2 linked regions of the Homo sapiens genome follow. The protein of the gene in region 2 purifies or fractionates together with the protein of the main gene of each other region. This does not show direct contact. Each region holds a gene or a part of one and is shown on either strand. Other genes may lie near its edges.

The links. The genes of interacting proteins can lie anywhere in the genome.
Region 1: the proteins of TEX30 (region 2) and SHTN1 purify together in Homo sapiens (affinity purification with mass spectrometry; one large-scale study listed by BioGRID and IntAct). This does not show direct contact.

The regions. Positions count from the first base shown.
Region 1 is NC_000010.11:116,928,537-116,932,187, forward strand, and holds part of SHTN1 (shootin-1), read right to left. Parts: intron 1,467-3,651; coding exon 1,313-1,466; intron 1-1,312. UniProt on the Homo sapiens protein: Involved in the generation of internal asymmetric signals required for neuronal polarization and neurite outgrowth.
Region 2 is NC_000013.11:102,771,667-102,775,417, forward strand, and holds the start of TEX30 (testis-expressed protein 30), read right to left. Parts: upstream 2,121-3,751; 5' UTR 2,016-2,120; exon of another isoform or gene 1-2,015.

The DNA.
Region 1 (3,651 bases), on a different chromosome or scaffold from region 2:
CTTCAAAGAACTGAACTTAAGTTGATATCACAGGTGCTAATACCTATGAGATAATGGGTAAAAGGTGCTGCATACTGTTGGCACTCAGAGGTAGCTCTCCCCATCCACAGCCATTCCACTTTCCCCGACTGAGTGTACCCTCAGGGATCTGTCCATTTGTATTTACCCTCAACACTTAAATAGGCAGTGTGGGCTATGCTCTCCAAAACTGAGAATCCTCTAGTCTTTTTATGTGCATGCACCTATCCCTCCAAGGGGAATCTGAGTTCTCTGAAGACAAAAAGCATGGTTTCTTTTCTTCTGTATTTCTTATTGTTTCCTAGGATAGGGCTGGGTACACACACAGCAGATAATAAGTATTAATAGAAGGCATTCAGATTTGAACCTTATATATTTCCAGTGTCTGCCTCCTCTATTCATAATAAAGATGGCTTTGGCTACAGGCTACTCTGATATTCACTAAAAAGAATGAAATACTTCTTAATTTTGGATCAATTAAAAAATAAATTATAATCAATTTTCATTGTGGATTAGAAAGCACTGAATGCTTTTAGAAGGAAAAAAGGCCTACATGGTTCTTCTGCATAGGTTTCAAAATTCTAGTATAAAATTAACCAAAAATATCTGAAGTGAATATTGAAGCTATTATAAAGGGAATGTACCTGACTTCTTAAATTACCGACCTTCCAACAGAGACTTACACATATGCCCGTATAGTAATCTAACTCGCACATTCCCGTTAAGCCTTCTAGAACTGAATGAATAAATCTTTTGATTTAAGTATCCCCTGGTGTTTCTAAAGATTTTCCATTTAATAGATATATTGTTGCCCAGTTCATTGTTAGGTACAATATAGAAAGTATTATTTCATGTGTATTATTAGACACCAAAGATGAAGGTAGTATGAACACCAAAGATGAAGACAGTATTTTTAAAAAGTTTAATTCTTTCTAAAAATGCACTCTAAGTGAACAAAATAAAGTACATAATGAACATTCATCTCTGAAGCTCTGAAAAATGCTGAAAAGTTGGTCTTCCTAGGCTAACGGTATCTCTGTGTCTAAATTCTGTATATGATGTTCACAAGGGCTCTAAGTCCAAAAAATTAGTCTAAATATTTTTGAATTATTTAATACAGCAGCTATTCTACTGAATTGCAATGGTTAGAAATTAAGGAATTTCAAAACAAATCTTGGTATTTTTCCACAGCATTCAGTAAATGTTCTAGACTAACTATATGCCAGGTTTTGTACTAGGCATGAGTAATTCAAAGATTAATAGTAAGACATAGTAGCCTACTCAATGCTTTTACCAGAGTGCTTTAAATTTCTGGCTTTCTCTTCAGAATTCTGATATTTCAATTCCAATTCCTTTTTATCTTCCTCTAGAAGCTCCAGTTGCTGTTTGAGGTTGTGTATTTCTTTGTGGAGTGTTTCATTTTCTAGTTGCTCTTCTAATTCTTTGACCTATAAGTTATTTAAAAAAAAAAGACTTTTATGGCTGACAGTTTTTCCTTTGTCAAAGAAAAGAAAGGGAAAAAATAAATATTTCCCTTTGACTGTACTTCATAGCAAACAGATTCCAATCCATCTTAACAACCATGCAAATGCTAGATACAATTAACACACAATCATAAATCAGCTAAAGAGCTGATTTAAAATAAATTTACTGGGGAGTTACGTACCAGACACTTTAATTTTTTTTAAGTTTTATTTTAGGTTCGGGGTACATGTGCATGGTTGTTATATAGGTAAATTGTGTGTCACAGGGGCTTGGTGTACAGGTTGTTTCATCACCAAGGTAAAAAGAATAGTACCTGATAGATACTTTTTCGATCCTCTCTCTCCTCCCACCCTCCATCATCAAGTAAGCCCCAGTGTCTGTTGTTCCCTTCTTTGTGTCCGTGTGTAATCAATGCTTAGCTCCCACTTAGAAGTGAGAACATTTGGTTTTCTATTCCCATGTTAGTTCACTTAGGATTATGGCCTCCAGTTCCATTCATGTTGCTACAAAGGACATTATCTCATTCCTTTTTATGGCTACACCGTATTCCATGGTGTAATATGTACCAGATTTTCTTTATCCAGTCTACCACGGATGGGCATTGAGGTTGACTCCATGACTTTGCTGTTGCATATAGTGCTGCGATGAATATGTGTGCACGTGTCTTTATGGTAGAATGATTTATATTCCTTTGGGCATATATCCAATAATGGGACTGTTGGGTTGAATGGTATTTCTGTGTTAAGTTCTTTGAGAAATCGCCACACTGCCTTCCATAATGGCTGAACTAACTTACATTCCCACCAGCAGTGTTTAAGCGTCCCATTTCTCTGAAACCTTGCCAACATCTGCTATTTTTTGACTTTTTAGTAACAGCTATTCTGACTGACATGAGATGGTATCTCATTGTGGTTTTGATTTTCATTTCTCTAATGATTAGTGATGTTAAGCATTTTTTATATGCTTGTTAGTCACACAGACACTTTAATTTTTAAACATGGGTCACTTTTGTACCCATTTTCAAAAGAAAAATTCAGGTAATATTTTAAAAGACTCCTGGGGGACACAAATTTAGTAATAAGTATCAAAAGTCTTCAAAAAAAAAAAAAAAGGAAAGGCTTTCGATTCAGTAAAACCATTTTTAGAAATTATTTTTTAAAATACTCTGAAATATATTCACTGAAGTGGTTTTTTGTTTTGTTTCGTTTTTGTTTTTGTTTTTGTTCTGAGATAGAGTCTCACTCTTTCGGCCAGGCTGGAGTGCAGTGGCGCGATCTGGGCTCACTGCAAACTTCGCCTCCTGGGTTCAAACAATTCTTGTGCTTCAGCCTCCTGAGTAGCTGGGGCTACAGGCACATGTCACCACACCCGGCTAATTTTTGTATTTTTAGTAGAGACAGGGTTTCACCACATTGGCCAGGCTGGTTTCGAACTCCTGGCCTTAAGTGATCCACCTGCTTTGGCCTCCCAAGGTGCTGAGATTACAGGCGTGAGCCACCACACCTGGCCTGAAGTATTCTTTACAACAGCAAAAAGTTGCAAATAACCTAAATGTCCACCAATATTTTTAGTTTAATAAATTATAGCATGTTTATTCAATGAAATACTATGCAACTTTTAAATCACATAGCTTACTATATACTGACATGAGAAGATATATTACCAATGGAAAAAAAATCAAGGCATAAAATAGTATGCATAGTATGATTCAATTTAAACAAACTATATTTATAAAGGTATATATTTACAGAAAGTTCAGCTATGCACCAAAATATGGGATACTTGGTTAATCTTCTTTAACTTTTGCTGTATTTTAAAAATGTATTATAAGGAGCATATGCTATTTTTATAATTGCAAAAACCATATGCTGTGCTTAAAAGACTGCTGCATCTGCAAGGGAACTTACAGACAGCTAAGAAACATTTTAAGCGACATACAGATGGTCCCCAATTTAGGATGGTTTGAGATAGTTTTTCGACTTTACAATGGTGTGAAAGCGACATGCATTCAATACAAACCATACTTCAAATTCTGGATTTTGATCTTTTCCCAGGCTCGCAATATGTAATAAGATACTCTCTCAACAATCCTCTGCAGCGGCAGCCAGCCACAGCTCCCAATCAGTCACATGATCATGCGAGTAAATA
Region 2 (3,751 bases):
CATGCAGCCCCACAATTATGCCTGGGTTTCTCAGTTCAAAGATCCTCTGTTTTACTTTCTCAAGAGAATAAGCCTCCATCCAGTCTTCTAACAAGGGGAAAGGCAGTCACCCAACAGGTGAAATGGGGAAGGGGATCTGGATATCCAATTGCTTCTCAGATTTCACCTAAATCATCTTTCTTTAAGCTCCTTACACCCACCTTCTGCACCACACCACCTTCATTCCCAGTACCACCGCTGTCCAGTGCTGCCAGTTTCCGTGCAGTTTGAAGATTCTGTGGTTAATACAGGGTTTGCTAAGCCATACATGTTTTGGAGCCCGCTATTTGATTGCCAGCGTTTCCTTTCCTATTCTCCCATTGCTGGAGGTTCATGTTTGTTTTTAAATAGCCTTAATGTAAGTTTAGTGAAACTTCATGAAGGAGTAAATTTAGATGCATGTAAACAACCACTATCTTAATTTAGAATGCTTCCCTATTTTTTTTTTTTTTGAGACAGGTTCTCGCTCCGGCGGACAGGCCGGAAAATTGAGTGGCGCAATCATAAGCTCACTGAATCCTCGAACTCCTGAGCTCAAGCGATCCTCTCGCCTCAGCCTCTTGAGTAGGTGGGACTACAGACGCTCACCACCACGCCCGCTTATTATTTTTAAATGTTTTTGTAGAGACGAGGGTCTCCCTATGTTTCGCAGGCTGGTCTTGAACTCCCGGGCTCAAGCGATACCCCCTGCCTTGGCCTCCCAAACCGTTGGGATCCCAAGGCGTTTGCCACCTCTCCCGGTCTGCTTTACTTCTTTTCAGACTTCACGATGCACAGTGTGTTCTTCACGGCAGCTGCACACATGCTGGTTTTCTTCAGAAACACGGAAAATGCCCCATAATGCAATCCCCAAGCAACCTGCTCTAGGTCATCTGGGTTTGTTTTTTTGAGACAGAGTCTTGCTCTGTCCCCCAGGCAGGAGTGCAGCGGCGCGATCTCGGCTCACTGCAGCCTCTGCCTCCCGGGTTCAAGAGATTCTCCAGCCTCAGCCTCCCGAGTAGCTGAGATTACAGGCGTCCGCCACCGCGCCCAGCTAATTTTAGTAGAGACGGGGTTTCACCATGTTGGCCAGGCTGGTTTTGAACTCCTGACCTCAGGTGATCCACCCGCCTCGGCCTCCCATGGTGCTGGGGTCAGGCGTGAGCCACCGTGCCAGGCCACTGTCGTCTGGGTTTTCATCTCTGGCTTCAGGTTCAGAGAGGGCAGGGTTTGAAGCCTGGCCCGGCCTCAGTGCCCTCAATGGCGATGGTGAAGATGACCGGCTAGAGGTGCTGCGCCCACGAAACGCCAGCTCTAGTGGCGTCCGGAGCGCCGGCTCCACCGGCTAGGCGGTCGGCGGAGTTCTAGGACGACAACTACTCACAAGGGCTGGGCGATCACCTCCCACGCCACGGGACGGAGACGCCACAGCCCCTTCAACTTTCAGTTACAAACGTTCGTGCCCTGTTACGTCCACAGCATTAAGCTGGCTGTCGTGGGGCAAACAAAAACGTTGAGTCCGAGTCTTACGGGGGGTCGGGTCAACAACCCCAGCAAACATGGAGAGAAAATTCAAAGCGGGTCTCACGGGCGTGCGGGGCTCGGCGGCGCTCGGGGCACGGGATCCGTTCTCTCCGCAAATGCGCGCTGCCGGGGCTGCGCCGCGGGCTGCCCCGGTCGACCCCTCTCAACTCCGAGGCTACTTCGAGCCAGTCACCCGGGACTGGCTGACGTGGTCCAGGTTGGCCCCGTCCGGCTCTCCCCGCCCGTACCAACCCCACATTCCGCCCTCCTACCCGGCAAAGCGGACGAAGCCCCCACCGGCTGGTGCCCGCGGGCACCGAACTTAGCGGAACGCCTCCCGGCTCGGACCAGACGCCCCTGAGGAGTGACGCCCGCGAGCCTCAAACGTCTCAGGCGGGCCTGCCGGGTGCTCTCCCCGTCTCCCAGGAAGCCGCCCGTCAGCCGGCGGCGCCAACCGCCACCGCCGCACTTACCCGGGAAGGCAAAAGTGGCCGCGGGCACCCAACCGCCGTCACTCCCTTCAGGGAGCTGACTAGCGCGCTCGAAGCGACCGCCTCGCCTGCCCCGCCACAGCGTTCGGCTACGACGCACGCGCGCGCAGGCCACGCCCCCCGGGTGCGCGGGCCGGGCCGCAGAGCACGCCGGGAGCGTGGGTCTCCCAGCCCGCCACATCCCAGGGCTGTACGCGCGGACTAGCGGAGCTAGGGGAAGGTGCCAGGGTGGCCGCCGCCTCAGTAGCACGCGGACGGCTGGAAAGTCAGCCCCCGTTTCCGCCTCACCCAGGATTGCTCCACTCGGGGCCTTTCCGCATCCCAGCCACCACTCCATTCCGAGGCGCGATCAGCTCTGACCAGTCTTCCTCACACCCATAGTCGATTCGTTACTCCCGTTAAGGTCAAACGCTGACAGAAACCAGCCGCTTCGCACACTTCTACATGGGGTCAAGCCCCCTGTTATCTTTGCGGGGATGATTGTAACAATCACTTAAATGGTCGCTTCGTACCATCTTGCCCCCGCCTGGGCCTTGTCGGCGACGCCGCAGCCACGTGGATGCTGTGGAAGCCTGTCCCCTGGATCTTCCAAAGGCTCCGCGCTCATTGCCACAGCCAGCGGCCGGCAGTGGCCTAGGCTGTTGCACGCGATCGGTCCCCCACATCTCCCCTCTCCATCTGGCTCCTTTCCCTGGAAGCCCAGGGCAGCCCACACTTCGCTGTCCTCACCCCCACTCACCAGGCGGGACCCCACGACGACCGGCTTTTGTCCTGGCTGCTCCCTCCCAGCGTGGGCCGCGTCTCCTCGGGGTCGACAGGGCGCGTGGTTTTCACAGCGAGGCCTCCCCTGATCACCTCCCCGCTCTTCCTGTCCTTCCCCGGTCACCTCACGAGCTATGGATGTATCTGTGTCTCCTCACTGCGCTATAAGCTCCCAGGTGAAGAAAGGGTTGCTTTTTGTAAATTTTTGTTTTAACCGTGAACCTCTTGTGTATGAATAATGCTCAGAAAAAAAAAAATTTCTTAAATGAATGAATCTTCCCCAAGCCCAGTGCAGTTGGCACCTGCCCTCTTTTCTGTCACGGTACATACAAGGAAATACATTCCACAAAACCACATAGTCGCTGTCATTTATCACAAGTGTTTCCCCAAATTACAAAGTCTTAATACTTCTTTGTCTCCTAATTTTTTAGCTGTGTTTTTAAAAAACATTTCTTTACATGCCATAAAATTCACTCATTTGAAGTGTACCATTCAATCATTTTCAGTAATTTTAAAACCATTTGCAACCATCACTATAATTTAAGAACATTTCCATTATCCCCCTGAAAAGTATTTGCACAGTTATAGTTGAGGTAGGAGATCAGCAGGACTTTCCAAGCACTGATCACCACCTGCTGAGCAAAACAGGATCTGGTCAGAACAGGATGCCCTAAAAAAACGGCCAAAACTGCCCTAAAGAAACAGGCCCAAGCCAGCTAAAACCAGGATGGTGACCAAAGTGACCTCTAGTGCCCTCACTGCTCATTATACACTAATTATAATACATGAACATGCTACAACACTTCCACCAGCACTCTGACAGTTTACGAATGCCATGGCAATGCCCAGACCTTACCTTATATGGTTTAAAAACGGAAGAATTCTCAGTTCCGGGGAACTCCCCACCCCTTTTCTAGAAAATTCGTGAATAACCCACCCCTTATTTAGCGTACGAT